Linked DNA regions of Homo sapiens. The protein of the gene in region 2 interacts with the protein of the main gene of each other region in a biochemical or structural test. Each region holds a gene or a part of one and is shown on either strand. Other genes may lie near its edges. The genes, in order: VANGL2 and NLRP3.

Region 1 (9,053 bases), about 87 Mb from region 2:
ACAGTCACACTGAGGTCTCAGACTGCAGCCTCATGACAAACTTGTGTGACTTGGGATCCACAAATTCCTCGGAGAGTTTGAAGAATGGGACCTTCTTGGTGCTGACCACCAGGCTGAAGTCCTGGCGTTTTAAGAGGAAAACGATGCCATCCTTGAGGCCGTTGGTCACCGGCTCCTCGCTCACCAATGTCCACTGTTTGGCCAGCCAGCGTTCCTTGTGGTACTGGATGGTAGGTCCAGCCGCCAAGTATCGCTCCAAGAAGGCCTGAAGTGGAAAGAAGGGGCTGCATAAGAATCTCTGTCATCTACCCACGGTCCTTCATCCCCTAGGTCATAGTTTCCAAAGACAAGAAGGACGTCCCTGAGCTCACTCTATGCATATGAACTAGAACCTCAGAATGTTACAGCAGGAAGGGGCCTGAGATCATCTGCTTCAGACCCTCATTTTATAAATGAAGAAGCCGGAGTGCACAGGGGGATGTGGCTCATCAGGTAGGACTGAACTCGGCTCCCCTGACCCCCATCTGCTGCTCTTCTCCCTGCACCAGGCTGTGACCTGGGCAAGCCCTCCCTCATTCTTCCTTCCTTCCCACACAGCTTGTATGATTCGTGCCAAGCAGGTCTGCACCAGGAGGGAGCCAAAGGTGTCAAGGTTAAAGTGCAACATCTTTAGTTACCTGCTCACCAAGGGTGGCTCAGGGAAAGCAATTCTAGGAAGCTGGCAATAGAGTTGAAGGTGGGCAATGGCTCAAAATGACACAAAGCCAAGACCAGCTAGTGGAGGTGAAGAGGGTAATGGAGGTGAAAGTGGGCCTTTGGATCTGGTAATTCCGGAGCCCTCATAGAGATGAGAAATAAGTCTCAGCCATCCCCAAAATGGTCCTGAGGACTCCCTTCTCCTCATCTACCTAAAGACTTCACCCCACACAGATGGGGCAGGTGGAATAGGAATGAGAGAGAAGATTATAAAAAGGAGGTGGTGAGGAGAGAGAAATGAGGTGGACAGTGAGGAAAGTAGTGAGAGAATAAGGGAAAATGAAGGTGGGAAAGAAGAGGAGCTGGGGAAGGAGGAAGGATGCTGGCAGCAGGGCAGGCCTACCTTGGGCGTCATGTCATGCGTGATGCAGAATTCAAGGTGCTGCAGGATGCTCTCCATGGTGTGGTAGGGCTGCTGCTTGGTGGTCCGAAGGTACTTCTGCATGGCACGGGCCATGGATGCAAAGATGGCTTGGGCTGCCTCCCGGGGGTCCATCACCTCCCTGGGGTTTTTCTGCTCCTCTTCCTGCAGCCGCTTAATGTGAGTGAAGGCCTCCTCCACCGCCACTACAAGCCTAGGGGACAGGAGGGGACTGGGCCAGATGCCCACCTCTCTTTCCCCCACCCCACCCCTCTCCCCTAGCTCCAACACTCCAGCAGCCTGAATGAGGTCAGGCCTTTGTGCTCACCCAAAGTAATACAAAGCCAGAGGCAATAGTGCCTTTCTGCCACTGGGAACAGTAAACAGCCACAGAGTTCAGTGGGCCCAGCCCAGGGACTCAGAGGGCAAACCTAGTGTCAAACCCAGAGAGACAACTAGGAACTATGCTATAGGAAAGACAAAGCATTCCACCAAACTTTAAGGAAAACCTTCTTAAATAAGACCCCCAAATCATACTTCATTGGCTCAACAATTAATAGATATGATTACATCAAAATGACAGATTTCTGTTCAACCATGACAGCATGGGCAACATTAACTGACATCTGATGGAGCTGGGGAAAATATACACATCTAAAACCAACAAGGGATTCAGATCTAGAACATGCAAAGAATTTGCTACAATTTCTATCAAGAAGAAAAAGACAGGAAACCTAGAGAAAAAAGGGCAAAGGAGGTGAACAGAAAATTCACAAGAGGACTGAAAGGCTAAAAGATATACGAAGTAGTTACTGGCTAGCAATTAGAGAGATGCAAATGAAAATGTTAGTAAAATATTACTTTTCCATCAAAATGGAAAAAAGAAAGAAGGTAACTATAAACCAAATATTGGATAGGATGTTGGGAGTATTCCATGAACTACTATGCAGCAAAAAGATGCAACAAACTAGATGTACAGACAACTTGGATGAATCTCAAAAACACAGTGTTAAGGAGGAAGCAGGAAAAAAAAATCCATTTACATTAAAAGCATATAGATGGCCGGGTGTGGTGGCTCATGCCTATAATCCCAGCACTTTGGGAGGGTGAGACAGGTGGATCACCTGAGGTCAGGAGTTCAAGACCAGCCTGGCCAACATGGCAAAACCCCATCTTTACTAAAAATACAAAAATTAGCTGGGCATGCTGGTGTGCATCTGTAATCCCAGCTACTGGGGAGGCTGAGGCAGGAAAATTACTTGAACCCAGGAGGCGGAGGTTGCAGTGAGCTGAGATCATGCCACTGCACTCCAGCCTGGGGGACAGAGCAAGACTCCATCTCAATAAAAAAAAAAAAAAAAGCATACATACAGACACACACACCAACACCAACAAAGATCACTACACTAACACTAACTTTGCACAAGGATACATATAGCTTTTAAGGAAGTCAAACACACTCAACAGGATGCCTAAAATGTGGCGCTGGAGTGAAAGTGGGAACTGGAGGAAAAGAAGAAACAGAATAAAGAACCATGAAAAACTCTATAATGACAATATGTTAGAAGCTGAAAAGAGCAATTAATGCAATTATCTGCACTTCAAGTCCAAAAACCAAAATAAAAGCCCCCTGGCCTAAGAGCAGGACCAGCCTGAAGTGACAGGACAAAGAAAGAAAGTGAGGCCTTCTATGCAGAACCCAGGAACCTGAGTCATTTCAGATGGGACTCTGGGTATATAGGTGTGGATCTGTGTATGTCTATCATTTCTTCCTTTATTCTCTTGCTTCCCCTACATTTCTCAGTAAATTCCCTTTGAAAAGATCCTTTTATCTCAGGTAAACAAAGGAAAAAGTTTGCTCCTGGTTAAAAGCAAGGTAATGGGGAAAGGAAAGAGTCCTCTATGTGCCAAAAATGGTGGTGGCAGTACAGGAGATTGGATGACCCTGGTCAGGGCAGAAGATAAAGGGGTAGGGACATCACTGGTTTCCTTCCCAAGTCTCAGGCCATTTCCAAGACAATTAGAGACAGGTTGGAATGCCACAGAAATGGAGTTGGTGATCTTTGTTCTACTACAGGGGATGCCAGCCTCAAATAGGAACAAGGTAAGGGCTACCTCTTGCCCTTGAAGCCTGGAGTTCATGTGGGAGATGGGGCGGAGGCCAGGTGCGTGGTCAAGTCCTGAGGCACTCTGCTCCTCCCTCAGGGAACTCCCGACAGACCAAGATGGAACCCGGCAGAGTAGGCACCAAGTAAGATTCTTCAGGGTTGACTAAATTCACTTAATAATATGAATAGGGAAAGGGAGAAGCTAGGATGGCATTTAAGAATTTACCAAAATATAGGCAATAAAACGTCATTTTTTGAAGGCAACAAAAGCACCATCTGGTGAGTCCTCTCAAGATCTACTGGCAGGCAGGCTAGTCTAGCCTGAGTCCATGCTGTTGCAGGTAAAGCTCACATCCCTTTATTGGGTCCCTACCCCACTGTGGCAGGCAGAATTCAAAGATACCCTCCACTTCTACCAGACTCCCATCCCCTCATTAGACAACAATCTTGGTACATTTTGCAGATGTAATTAATGTGCCAAGTCAGTGGCCTTAAAAGAAGACTGTCCTTTAGGGCCTGATCTCATCACATGAGCTCTTTAAAATCAGCATTATCTCCAGCTGGTGGCAGAGGTCAGAGACCTGTTTCTGCTGGAAAAAAAAGTGCACTACCATCATGTAAACTGCCTATGGGGCTATGTGACAAGGCACTGAATTCTCCCCATAATAATGAGCTTGAAAGAGAAAGCATAGGCTCAGATGAGAGTCCTCTTGATTTCAGCCTGTGAGGCCTGAGCACAGCCTCCAGCCAGCCTGCACCTGACCCATGGAACTGGGAGATAATAAATGTGTGCTGTTTCACAGCTGCTAAGTTTATGGTAATCTGTTAGGGCAGCAACGGAAAACAAGCACACACCCCCAACTCATGTCATCATTGCCCTATATTTCCAGCAGTTACAGAAGTTCCTTGGTCTTCCTCTCCCCATTCACCCAACAAGCACCTCCTCTCCTCTTCTCCCCCAGGGACCCACCTGGCCCTCCTCTTGCGCACCCTTCGCTCATGCTCAGCCTCCTCATAGTAGTACTCATTGTGACTGTTGTCCCGCCTCCGAGCTGCCGCTGCAATCACAGCCCGAGACTGGCCAGTGGAGTTGTTGGTGCTGTTTTCTGCACAGGAACAGGATAGAGGAGATGGTCACATCAGAGTGTGGCCTCTCTTCCCACTCCAGGAGCTCTGGAGACAGCAGCCTGACATGTCCAGAAGAAGCTGTTCCCACCACCCAGCAATACCTCCTAATCCCAACCCTCCTGGCCACCTCTGGGAGAGGCCATAGGAAAGCAACAAGGAAGGCACTGGAAGCGCAAGAGTCCTGCAGTTGTTCCTCCCCAGTGCAGGGGGTTCTGCAGCTCCGAGAGCCAAAGGGCTTAGACCAGGGCTGATGAGAGACACAGAGGAGCCAGATCAGGGGACATGCCATAGCATAAAGGGACAGCAAGTAGGATGAGCAGCTAAGATCAGCCACCTGGAGTCAAGGGAAATGACTGAATAGAAGCGGCTAGAACATGGGCTAAGGAAAGGAAAAAGCAAGGGACAAAGGGTAAAAGAGAGGCGGGAACTTGGAGTCCTGCTTGGGAAGAGACAGGGAAGGGCAGAGGAGCAGGGCTGCTCACCCTCTCCGAGGGAATACACCTTGAAGCCAGACACTTTCTTGGCCAGGACGGACTTGGGCAGGTTGAGGAGGGCAGGGTTGTAGACAGGGAAGTCATGGTAATACTTCTCCAGGATCCACACTGCCACGCGCTGGATGCTGTGGGGGAGACGGCAGGAGGGGGTGGGAGAAGGGACAGACCAAGGGGCACAGGGGAAAGGGACACATTAGGGCAGGTTGGCAGGGCAGGAGAGGACACAGGACAGGGACAAGCTGCTTCCGAGAAGCCTGACTCCGGGCCTGAGGTCTACTTACCAGGCTCCCAAGCCTTTCCCAGGGCTGGGCCTGCCAGTCCCTCCCCACCATGCCAAAGCCTAGCAGAGAAAGGGCATTGGGCCTGGGTCCCCAGCCAAAGATCACCTCATCCCCATTCAGCGTTCCCCCAAGATCCTCTACAGGACCCAGGACGTGCCACTGATATTCTGTGTGGCCTCGAGGGGTAGCTTGTTTACTGGGAGCTGAAGAACTCTCCTCCTTATCTCTTTCTCTGGGGATCCCTCCTCTGGCCAGGTCACTTCACAGGCCACTCTGAGTGCTCACAAGAAGCTGCGCCTCCCAGAAAGGACTAGAAAAGGGATTCCAAAAAGCCCCTGTTTGTGCACCCCCCCATATTTCTTCCCTTTGGTCCATCCCCCTCTAATATTCCCTACCTCTAAATGCCTATTCATTCCCATCTCATAACTCCCAACTGATCTTGCCCCAAGACCGTGTACATGAACCTGCCTATCAAGCAGCAAACATTGGTGAAAACCTACTTGGTGCAAAGTACTCAACTCCCTCCCACACAACCCTCCAAGCCCATCACCTCCAGCCCACCATCATACCCTCCCACCCTAGCAGTCACTCCACATCCTCCCATGCCCTTTCCCTCCCAACCCTTCTCCAGCCGTGGGCTAGTACCTGAGATGGCCAACGTTGTAGAAGCGGCTGGCGCCGTCGGTGGAGCGCACGACCTTGAGCGTGAACTGAGGCTGGAGCTGGCGCAGCTCCAGCAGGACCACGGCCAGGTAGTGCACGAAAAGAAGGGCGTCCACCAGCGACACGGCGAACTGCACCACGCCCTGGTAGCTGCGCTCCCGAGCATCCAGGATGCGCACACCATAGAAGAGCCAGTAGGAGACCACGAGCAGGAAAACCAGCACCATAAGCAGGGCACGCAGCACAAAGACGCGGGGCAGCGAGGCCTTGGGCCGGCGGAAGAACAGAGCCCAGCTGCCCAGTAGCAGGATGAGCAGCTTGAAGGCGACAGAGATGAAGAGGCCCTCGCAGGCCGTCCCGCAAGGCTCCAGCTCCTCCCGCCACAGCAGTGGGGGCAGCAGCAGGAAGGCCAGAGGCGTGAGGAAAGACAGCAGTGCCAGGGTGGCCCCCGCTGCCACACCCAGGTGACGGGAGCAGTCCAGAGGGACACTGTCCTCCATGTCCTTGGCGATGCGTGTGAGGTCATCATGGGAGATGCTGTGCTCTGAGGTGCCCGTTACTACTGTCGTCGTTTCCCCCCAGTTGTCATCCTACAGGCAGAAGGGGGCCAGCCACACAATAAGGAGGAAAGGATAAGAAGAGGAAGAGGAGGGAAACAGGAGAAAGGGTGAGGGGACAGGAGACAGAGAAGAACACATGGGAAAGGAGAAGGCAGAAAGAAGAGAGGGTAATCAACAAATACGCAACCATCAAAGTATTTACTGAGCTCCAATGTGTGTCAAAGTCTGGCCTCTGCAGATGGCCAAATCCAAGACCCGAGCCCTCGGGGAGCTGGACACTGGTCAGTGAGAGAGGAAAAAACCACACATGCGGCAATGACCCTCAGAGCAGACAGCACAGGACAAATGCTGAAGATGCTGCTCAGGCAGTGACTGGGATCCAAGGGCAAACTCGCCAAGCAAAGCAGGCAGGCTTCCAGAAACCGTGGGACCTGAGCTGATCCTTGGGGGAAGGGGGCTCCAAGGAAGATGTTCTCAATCCCAGATGCACACATTAGAACACTTAGGGAAGTTGGAAAATAATGCTAATTATTGGAGAGTGCAATCTGCTTGTGAACCTTTAAAAAAAAAAAACAAAAAACTCCCCAGATGATTGTAATGGTCATCCAAGATTGAGAATCACTGAACTAAATGATTTCTAAGGGCTGGCTGGCTACTTAAAATGTGATCTGTGGACCAGCGGTGTGGACATCACCTGGGAGCTTGTTAGAAAGGCGGAACCTCAGGCCCACCGCATGTTTACTGAACCAAATCTGCATTTTAACAAGATCCACATGAATCACTCAAACATTAACATTAATTCTGGAAGTCCTGCTGGGCACGGTGGCTCACGCCTGTAATCCCAGCACTTTGGGAGGCCGAGGTGGGCAGATCGCCTGAGGTCGGGAGTTCGAGACCAGCCTGACCAACATGGAGAAATCCCATCTCTACTAAAAACACACACACACAAAAAATTAGCTGGGTGTGGTGGCACATGCCTGTAATCCCAGCTACTCGGGAGGCTGATGCAGGAGAATCGCTTGAACCCAGGAGGAGGAGGTTGTGGTGAGCAGAGATCGTGCCATTGCACTCCAGCCTGGGCAACAAGAGCGAAACTCCATCTCAAAAAAAAAAAAAAAAAAAATTATGGAAGTCCTATCTAAGTTCCTTCCAGCATGCCATGATTTTGGCAGAAGCTAGAGGAGGAGCCTCCAGGGCAGGAATGGCATGAACTGAGGCACCCAAGGGCTATGAGAGCAGAGGATCCCTGTGCAGAAGCACAGCAAGGTGCAACCAGGAAGGTAAGGCAGACAGCAGCCAGGCAGGGCTTGTGCAGGCCACGCTGCAGTGCTGGGCTGGGCAATAAGCACCTGTTCTCCAGGCATGGAGAGCCACTGAAGGAGTAAACCTGATCAAAGCAGCACAGAGAAGAACAGAAGACCCCAGGGGTAAAGGGGTGAAGGCGTGAAGGACACTGTGCAGACTCAAGGCCACTCTGGGTCTCTGGTCTGCAAGGCCACCTCTGCTGGGCCATCTAAATGTCTACAGTGCAGAGGCTACCTGTCTCTGGAGGCAAGAAGGTGGCCAGGCTGAGGTCCCCAGGTGTCCCTCTAAGTGTGGTCTGCTCAAGCTGTTTCTCTGCAGTGGCTGGAGGCCATCCCACGGAGGAGTCCCAAGACCACCAGCTGCCTTCAGCACCCACCCTTCGCTCCTGGGACAGCCTGGGGATATGGAATCACAACCTGACACCCAGGAGGTTGAGGTTACAGGATGAAGGCAGCCCGACAGCACCAGTGATTAGGGAGGTTGAGGAACCTCCTCTCTACAGGATGGGGAACGAGTCTGATGTGAAGATAGAAAGCAGATGCACTGACTGCCTTCAGCTCAAAGCCCTGGGTCTGCTCCCCGCCCTCTGACCCCTAGACATACTGCCCACCCCCTCCAAGGACCAAGGGCTTGGGATCTCCTCCCCAGTAGCAGGTGAGCTGGTCATGTCTCAGGGTCACTTCAAGAACTCAGGAGGCCAGGCCCCAGGAAGAAGGGATTGGGAGAGAGGGAAAAAGAACATTTCCTTCAGGTATTGACCTGCTCCCAAGGCCCAGGAATTCCCAATGTCAGCCACAGAGATTTCTTCTGAGGAAAAAGGAGCTGGGAATCTCCAGCCCCCAAAGATGATCCCAAGGGGAATGAGACTTGGGCAACCTCAGTGTCACCTAAAATCCTGCCTCTGCCCTATTCCAGGACTGTGTTCTGCCCACTGTCCTCCCTACCAGGTGAGCACAGTGGGCAGCAGAGGTTAGAATAGAAAACCTGCTCACCCCTGTCCTGGAGAACTCTCTCCTGGGGTCCCTGCTCCATCCCTCAGCCTTACTTCTTGTCCCTTGGGCTTTCTCCATCTACTCTTCCCATACTCCTTTCCCAAGATCTAGGTGACGCCATTCTACAGGCTGACACCAGAGGGCACAGAGTGCCCACATCTCGAGGCTCCAGGAATACTCAGCTTTGCTCACACATACCCCAGGCCCAGCCACCACCACCACCCTCCTGCTCCAGACTCCCAGCGGGCCTGACTGGCTGGCGGCAGCTCCAGAGGAGCTGGCCAATTCCCATCATACAGCCCAGGTCACCCCCCACTCCTCTGGAGATAAGGAAGGAGAGGCTGCTGCTTCCAGAGGGATCTCTATACTGAAATTCCTGAAGGTCCTACCTTAAGACACTAAGCC
Region 2 (9,053 bases):
ATGGCATCGTGAAGTGGTTGTTCACCGTAAACTGTAATACAATCCTGTTTATGGATTTGTTTGCATATTTTTCCCTCCATAGGGAAACCTTTCTTCCATGGCTCAGGACACACTCCTGGATCGAGCCAACAGGAGAACTTTCTGGTAAGCATTTGGCTAACTTTTTTTTTTTTGAGATGGAGTCTTGCTGTGTCGCCTAGGCTGGAGTGCAGTGGCGTGATCTTGGCTCACTGCAGCCTCCACTTCCCGGGTTCAATCAATTCTCCTACCTCAACTTCCTGAGTAGCTGGGATTACAGGCGCCCGCCACCACACCCGGCTCATTTTTGTACTTTTAGTAGAGACACAGTTTTGCCATGTTGGCCAGGCTGGTCTTGAATTCCTCAGCTCAGGTGATCTGCCTGCCTTGGCCTCTCAAAGTGCTGGGATTACAGGCGTGAGCCACTGTGCCCGGCCTTGGCTAACTTTTCAAAATTAAAGATTTTGACTTGTTACAGTCATGTGACATTTTTTTCTTTCTGTTTGCTGAGTTTTTGATAATTTATATCTCTCAAAGTGGAGACTTTAAAAAAGACTCATCCGTGTGCCGTGTTCACTGCCTGGTATCTTAGTGTGGACCGAAGCCTAAGGACCCTGAAAACAGCTGCAGATGAAGATGGCAAGCACCCGCTGCAAGCTGGCCAGGTACCTGGAGGACCTGGAGGATGTGGACTTGAAGAAATTTAAGATGCACTTAGAGGACTATCCTCCCCAGAAGGGCTGCATCCCCCTCCCGAGGGGTCAGACAGAGAAGGCAGACCATGTGGATCTAGCCACGCTAATGATCGACTTCAATGGGGAGGAGAAGGCGTGGGCCATGGCCGTGTGGATCTTCGCTGCGATCAACAGGAGAGACCTTTATGAGAAAGCAAAAAGAGATGAGCCGAAGTGGGGTGAGTGGAAGGAAGACTTTTAAAAAAAATTGTGGCCAAGTGCACATAGTGTACAATTTTCCATCTTTATATATATATATATATATATTTTTTTTTGAGACGGAGTTGCTCTTGTTGCCCAGGCTGGAGTGCAATGGTGAGATCTTGGCTCACTGCAACCTCCACCTCCCGGGTTCAAGCGATTTTCCTGCCTCAGCCTCCCAAGTAGCTGGGATTACAGGCATTGCACCTCCACGCCCGGCTAATTTTGTATTTTTAGTAGAGATGGGGTTTCTCCATGTTGGTCAGGTTGGTCTCAAACTCCCGACCTCAGGTGATCCACCCGCCTCGGCCTCGCAAAGTGCTGGAATTACAGGTGTGAGCCACCGCGCCCGGCCGTAATAATTTTTAAATGTACAGTTCAGTAGTGTTAGGTACACTCACATTGTGCAACCAGTCTCCAGAACTGTTTTCATCTTGCAAAACTGAAACTCCTCACCCATTGAATGATAACTCCTCATTGCCTCATTCTCCCAGCCCTGGTAACCACCATTCTATTTGCCATCTCTGTGAATCTTACTACTCTGGGTACCTCATATAAGTGGAAACATACAGCATTTTTTCCTTTATGAGTAGTTTATTTCACTCAGCATAATGTCCTCCGGGTTCAACTATGTTGTAGCATGTGTCGGAATTCCCTTCCTTTAAAAAAGACTGTATAAATACTCCATGGTACCATATACCAAATTTTGTTTAGTTATCTGTTGATGAACACCTGGATTACTTCTACCTTTTTGTTATTGTTAATGCTGTTATGAGTGTTGGTGCACAAATATCTCTTCAAGACCCTGCTTTGAATTCTCTGGGGTATATACTCAGAAGTGAAATTTCTGAATCATACGGTAATTCTGTTAAATATTTTGAAGAACTGCTCTACTGTTTTAGATACCATCTGCACCATTTCCCACCAACAGCACACAAGGGTTCCAATTTCTCCATATCCTAAGAACACGTTATTTTTATTTATTTTTTCTTTTTTATAGTAGCCATTCTAATGAGTGTGAGGTGGTATCTCACTGTAGTTTTGATTTCCGTTTCCCTAATGATAAGTGATGCTGAGCACATTTTCACTGCTTGTTGGCCATTTATAGAGCTTCTTCAGAGAAAGTTCTGTTCAAGTTCTTTTCTCATTTTCAGACCAGGTTTGGCTTTTGTTGTTGCCTTGTAGGAGTTCTTTATGTATTCTAGATATTAACCCCATATCAGATATATGATTTACAAATATTTTCTCCTATTCTGTGGGTTGTCTTTTCATTTGGTTAACTGTGTCCTTTGATGCACAGAAGTTAGTATGATTTTTTTTTTTTTAAATCATGGCCGGGCATGGTGGCTCATGCCTGTAATTCCAGCACTTTGTGAGGCTGAGGTGGGTGGATCACCTGAGGTCAGGAGTTCAACACCAGCCTGGCCAACATGGCAAAACCCCATCTCTACTAAAAATACAAAAAAAATTAGCCGGGTGTGGTGGTGGGCACCTGTAATCCCAGCTACTCAGGAGGCTGAGGTAGGAGAATTGCTTGAACATGGGGAGTGGAGGTTGCAGTGAGCTGAGATTGCACCACGGCACTCCAGCCTGGGCTAAAGAGCAAGACCCTGTTTCAAAAAAAAATTTTTTTTTCTTGTATTGTCTTGGTTTTTTCTCTTTTCCCCTCTCACGGTAGTGCTATGAGAAGGTGGAGGCAAACTGTTTGCTTTCTCTAACTCCTTTAAAAAGCTGATGCAGACTGTACCTACCCCCTGGGCACCTGCCATGATTAGTCCCTCTTTATCTGAATCTCAGCAGTGCCTAGACCTGCCTCCAATTCTCCATCCAGCTTCTCAGACCACATGTTTTGTCCAGTATCTGCTGTGTGGTCAGCAGGCTTGGGCCTCTGCTTCCTATGGCCCAGAGGGCAGCCTCTCTCCTTGAAGAACCGTGGAGTTTGGGGCAGAAGCCTTTCCTTTCACCACCACTTTGGGAATTGGAATGTAAAAGAAATTCTCTTAATCCCCATGTACACATTGGGGATAAGGTTCTTTCTTTTGTCTTGTGTTCTAGGCAAAGGTAGGGCTCAGAGAAGGGCAGGGTATTGCAGGATGATGATGTAGAGCTGGTGGTGATGGGAAGGAGGAGTACAAATGAGTCAGTGGATAGGGAGACACATGTTAAGGCAGGGCAGCAGTGTGGGTGTAATGACACTGGGGAAACAGACAGCAGTGTGCAGCCGGGGGAGGTCAGAAACCAGTTGCTGCAATGGCTCTCACCTGTAGTCCCAGCTACTCAGGAGGCTAAGGCAGGAGGATCGCTTGAGCCCAGGAGCTCAAAACCAGCCTGAGCAACATAGGGAGACCTCATCTCTAAGTAAATAAAGCAATTATCATTGTGTCAGTACTTATATACTCACATACCCAAATGAAAGTGTCATAATCACAACTGTAGAAGTACTTTGCTAAGCAGTTTTTATGGATTTTATGGCACATTCAAGAAACCCATGAAACAGCTTCTGGTATTATCCCTCCTGCAAGTGAATGAGGTGAGCCTGGAAGAGATCCTAACTGGCCCATGGTTTATTTCTAGCCATAACCAGAGCTGGGGTAAAAAGCAGGGCATGTCTCTGATCAAAGCCTGGCTCTTAACCACTACACCGTCTTTGCTTCCATATCTGGATTTTGAGGCAGAAAAGTTATAACTAGGGTTAGAAGTTTGTTTGTTTGTTTCCTGGGGTGGGGTTAGGTTTTAGGTAATAGACTTTGGCTAATTTACTGTCATGGCTCCTACCTGAGTCCCAGTTACTCAGGTGGCTGAAGTGGGTGCATCACTTGAGCTCAGGAGTTCCAGGCTGGAGTGAGCTATGACCATGCCACTGCCCTCCAGCTTTGGAAACAAAGCAAGACTCTGTCTCTTAAAAAAAAAGAATAAGATTTTGGTTTTGGCTTAGATTTTTTGGATTTTATTTTGTGATATGGTTACCAAGTAGACAGCTGTCAGAGGTCTTTTATGGGCTGGGCGCAGTGGCTTATGCCTGTAATCCCAGCACTTCAGGAGGCCAAGATGGGAGGATTGCTTGAGCCCAGGAGTTTGAGACCAGCCTGGGCAACATAGTGAGAACCTGTCTCTACAAAAAATGCAAACATTAGTTAGGTGTGGTGGCACGTGTCAATAGTCCCAGCTGTTCTGGAGGCTGAGGTGGGAGGATCACTTGAGCCCAGGAGGTTGAGGCTGCAGGGAGCCATGATTGTGTCATTGCACTCCAGCCTGGGCAATAGAGTGAGGCCCTGTCTCAAAAAAAAAAAAAAAATCATTTATGTTACTTGTAGATTCCTGCCCACCTGAAGTTATCTGTCTTATATATTTCCCCTAGTGACTAACTCTTGTTTTACCTAACCTGAATTTCTCCTATAGAATGCCTTCTTAAGATATGCTATCTAGTGACTGTTTGGATTTGTGATTCTCAACACAGATGCATGTTGGAATCACCTGGGAGCTTTTAGTATGTGATGGTTCCTGGGCCTCACCTCAGAGGGACTGAAAAAGAACCTCTGGGCGTGCAGTCCTGAAGTCCATATTTTTAAAGCTTCCTGGGTGATTCTAAAGTCAGCCAGGATTCCCAACCACTAGATTAGGCACGAAATAGACTGGTCGTTCTCACTCTTGAAGAACCAGACATCTAGACTTGACAATAGAAGACGTGTGTAAAATGGATTGCAGGGAACTGCGGTCAGGGAAGGGTGACCTTTCTTAGCCCACAGCCGTGTTGGGGATATAGGAGAGCTTGGAGATGCCCTCACAATCAGGCTGCCAGGGGCAGGCAAAAGCAAACGAGGGTAAAAGAAACTTAGCCTGCTTCGCATGTTTGCTGATTGATTTCCAGGCCTGAGGAAGAGATTCTGAGACTGGGGACAGTGGGAACACATGCTTGGCAGGTGGACAGCAGAAGTTGTTTTGAAACTAGGAGTGCAGAAATGCTCCCAACCAGACTTTTGACTGGATACCTGTCCTCTGCAACTCAGAGCCATGTTTTGATTTGGGGGATGTTTGGGGTCTCCTCTCTCATGCCAAATATTAGGCCAGGTTTCAATTGCATCCTCTGTGATAATAGTTCTGGGTTTTGACACCTTTTTTTTCCCTTTTAGGTTCAGATAATGCACGTGTTTCGAATCCCACTGTGATATGCCAGGAAGACAGCATTGAAGAGGAGTGGATGGGTTTACTGGAGTACCTTTCGAGAATCTCTATTTGTAAAATGAAGAAAGGTAAGCGACTGGGGTGGTGCTTCTAGTTGAGTTTTAAGACCTGGTTCAGGAGGCTCTGGGAAGCTGAGCAGCTGGGTAACTTGGCCATACTATAGGTTCCTGCTCTTTGGAATGCAAAGGCCTGTCTCAGGAAATCCATTGTCAGTTGAAGAAACAAATTCATGTTTGTGTGGCTCTTGCAGTCCCAGAGCCAGCGGCGGTGATTAAGCGTTTCAAGTTTGATAAGGCATAGGATGCAGATTACTTAAAGGAATAAGATTGATTCAAATGATCTTTGGGCTGGTAGCTACACATAGAGATGGGCCTTCTGCTCAGCTGTGTATCTTAAAAACTTGACACCAGAGATTCTCGGCACCTTTCCTACCCAGTGGGGAGGAGCTGCACCTTCCATTTCTCCATTCCGGTTACCACTCGCTTCCGATGACAGGCCCCAGCTGAGAGCGCATCTCAGGTGGATGTGTGTATACTTTCCCCCTAACTTCCTGTCTTTGCCGTAGATTACCGTAAGAAGTACAGAAAGTACGTGAGAAGCAGATTCCAGTGCATTGAAGACAGGAATGCCCGTCTGGGTGAGAGTGTGAGCCTCAACAAACGCTACACACGACTGCGTCTCATCAAGGAGCACCGGAGCCAGCAGGAGAGGGAGCAGGAGCTTCTGGCCATCGGCAAGACCAAGACGTGTGAGAGCCCCGTGAGTCCCATTAAGATGGAGTTGCTGTTTGACCCCGATGATGAGCATTCTGAGCCTGTGCACACCGTGGTGTTCCAGGGGGCGGCAGGGATTGGGAAAACAATCCTGGCCAGGAAGATGATGTTGGACTGGGCGTCGGGGACACTCTACCAAGACAGGTTTGACTATCTGTTCTATATCCACTGTCGAGAGGTGAGCCTTGTGACACAGAGGAGCCTGGGGGACCTGATCATGAGCTGCTGCCCCGACCCAAACCCACCCATCCACAAGATCGTGAGAAAACCCTCCAGAATCCTCTTCCTCATGGACGGCTTCGATGAGCTGCAAGGTGCCTTTGACGAGCACATAGGACCGCTCTGCACTGACTGGCAGAAGGCCGAGCGGGGAGACATTCTCCTGAGCAGCCTCATCAGAAAGAAGCTGCTTCCCGAGGCCTCTCTGCTCATCACCACGAGACCTGTGGCCCTGGAGAAACTGCAGCACTTGCTGGACCATCCTCGGCATGTGGAGATCCTGGGTTTCTCCGAGGCCAAAAGGAAAGAGTACTTCTTCAAGTACTTCTCTGATGAGGCCCAAGCCAGGGCAGCCTTCAGTCTGATTCAGGAGAACGAGGTCCTCTTCACCATGTGCTTCATCCCCCTGGTCTGCTGGATCGTGTGCACTGGACTGAAACAGCAGATGGAGAGTGGCAAGAGCCTTGCCCAGACATCCAAGACCACCACCGCGGTGTACGTCTTCTTCCTTTCCAGTTTGCTGCAGCCCCGGGGAGGGAGCCAGGAGCACGGCCTCTGCGCCCACCTCTGGGGGCTCTGCTCTTTGGCTGCAGATGGAATCTGGAACCAGAAAATCCTGTTTGAGGAGTCCGACCTCAGGAATCATGGACTGCAGAAGGCGGATGTGTCTGCTTTCCTGAGGATGAACCTGTTCCAAAAGGAAGTGGACTGCGAGAAGTTCTACAGCTTCATCCACATGACTTTCCAGGAGTTCTTTGCCGCCATGTACTACCTGCTGGAAGAGGAAAAGGAAGGAAGGACGAACGTTCCAGGGAGTCGTTTGAAGCTTCCCAGCCGAGACGTGACAGTCCTTCTGGAAAACTATGGCAAATTCGAAAAGGGGTATTTGATTTTTGTTGTACGTTTCCTCTTTGGCCTGGTAAACCAGGAGAGGACCTCCTACTTGGAGAAGAAATTAAGTTGCAAGATCTCTCAGCAAATCAGGCTGGAGCTGCTGAAATGGATTGAAGTGAAAGCCAAAGCTAAAAAGCTGCAGATCCAGCCCAGCCAGCTGGAATTGTTCTACTGTTTGTACGAGATGCAGGAGGAGGACTTCGTGCAAAGGGCCATGGACTATTTCCCCAAGATTGAGATCAATCTCTCCACCAGAATGGACCACATGGTTTCTTCCTTTTGCATTGAGAACTGTCATCGGGTGGAGTCACTGTCCCTGGGGTTTCTCCATAACATGCCCAAGGAGGAAGAGGAGGAGGAAAAGGAAGGCCGACACCTTGATATGGTGCAGTGTGTCCTCCCAAGCTCCTCTCATGCTGCCTGTTCTCATGGGTAAGGAAACTCGGCTTCCAGGTGCTTCCTCCTGCTTCCTCGCCAGCTTCTTCTTGGCGCTTGCCTCCTCTCATCTCTTTTCAACTATCTTCCAAATACTGTTGCCACAGCTACATCATAATGCCACCACTGTCTGTTTGAGACTCCTTCATGAGCAAAGATTGATGTATGGTAGGTGGATAAATGGGATGAGGAAAAAAAAAATAAAACAAGGAACAAATGTTTGGGGAATGCCAGTTTAGCACAAGGTATTAAGTAGGATGTAGGATTGCCTACAAATATTTGTCAACTGAAATTTCTTGTAAGCTACTTGGAGCACTAGTGCCTAAGAGTCAGTCAATGTCTGTGGGGCAGAACAATGCCAGAGAGTCTGTGTCCCAGGAGCGAGGGGACAGAGGGCCTCAGAGCTGGAGGCTGGGGGGATGTTTCTTAGAAATGTGCAATCTAAGCCTCCTTTAAGGAATGGTGGGACCTGGGCGCATAGAGAAGAAATTAAAGGAATTCTGCACTGAAGACTGGTATGAGCCAAATCATGAATGCAGTCTGAGAAAAAGTGTGTGCAGGTGACAGTGGAGAGAGACACAGTTTCCTTGGAAAAAAACATGATGAAGGTAAATCAAGGGAAATAGAGCAGAAATGTGGAGACCCTCTTTCTAGGCCCCCATGTTGCTCTGCACTGGGCATTGCCAAAACCCCGTTTTCGGGTCTGTTCACACACTTGCTGGGTGGTTGGAAGCTAGTGGCCAAGTCTGTGCAATGAAGTGGTTGAGTCACCTGACTTCTGAGTCCCTTTTGGGTTTATCGTTCAGTGCCTCCTGCAGAAGGACCACCCACAGTGGTTGTAGGAAGGTGGCCACCCTGTGATGTGTGAGTTTAGCCTGGATAGAAGACACTTGACGTGGGGCAAAATTAAGGGAAACAGGAGGCTTGGCCCTTCCACAGGCAACAATGAGTTTCAGCTTTCTTGATCCGTTGACATTACCATGACCAGGACCACCTTCCTAGTCATGGTTTGGCCATGAAGGACTGACTGCCCACAGGGCCGCAGTGGTGGTGAAGACCCAGGTCCTGGTCACAGGGACTTGAGGTCTGGCTGTGGGACAGTCCGGAAACAAGTGCAGATGTCGGGGAGGGGGTCATGGGCTCTGACAAGGAAACTTGCAGAGTATCCAAAGCACAAGGGGACGAACCTGTTCACCAGCGGGGCACGGGTGGGTGTCCCCGCTCAGCCAGCTTCCGGAGGATGGGCAGTGAGAGAGTGAGAGAAGGAAAGGGGCAGCCAGGCTGGGGGCTTACGGTGTTGAGAGAGAGGGCAGGTGTGGGAAAGCAGGGTACGGTTTCTACGGCAGCAAACAGTTCCGAGTGACTGGAAAAAAGACAGTTGTCTTCATTCATCAGGTTGCCATAACAAAACACTGCAGGCTGGTTGGCTTATAAGCAAAAGGAAGGTTCACCTTACGGTTCTGGAGGCTGGGAAGTCCATGATCCAGGCTCTGGCAGATCTGGTGTTTGGTGAGGGCCTGTTCCCTGGTCGATGGTGCCTTCTCACTGTGTCCTTACATGGTGAAGAGGCAAGGCAGCTCTCTGGGGTCCCTTTCCT

What was found.
Region 1: the proteins of NLRP3 (region 2) and VANGL2 form a complex in vitro, tested with the Homo sapiens proteins (one study listed by BioGRID).

The regions. Positions count from the first base shown.
Region 1 is NC_000001.11:160,416,330-160,425,382, reverse strand, and holds part of VANGL2 (vang-like protein 2), read right to left. Parts: intron 6,382-9,053; coding exon 5,774-6,381; intron 5,439-5,773; coding exon of another isoform or gene 5,390-5,438; exon of another isoform or gene 4,985-5,389; intron 4,973-4,984; coding exon 4,836-4,972; intron 4,332-4,835; coding exon 4,196-4,331; intron 1,332-4,195; coding exon 1,100-1,331; intron 266-1,099; coding exon 5-265; 3' UTR 1-4. UniProt on the Homo sapiens protein: Involved in the control of early morphogenesis and patterning of both axial midline structures and the development of neural plate. Plays a role in the regulation of planar cell polarity, particularly in the orientation of stereociliary bundles in the cochlea.
Region 2 is NC_000001.11:247,418,147-247,427,199, forward strand, and holds part of NLRP3 (NACHT, LRR and PYD domains-containing protein 3), read left to right. Parts: 5' UTR 1-648; coding exon of another isoform or gene 649-654; coding exon 655-931; intron 932-5,083; coding exon 5,084-5,203; intron 5,204-5,700; coding exon 5,701-7,453; intron 7,454-9,053. UniProt on the Homo sapiens protein: Sensor component of the NLRP3 inflammasome, which mediates inflammasome activation in response to defects in membrane integrity, leading to secretion of inflammatory cytokines IL1B and IL18 and pyroptosis.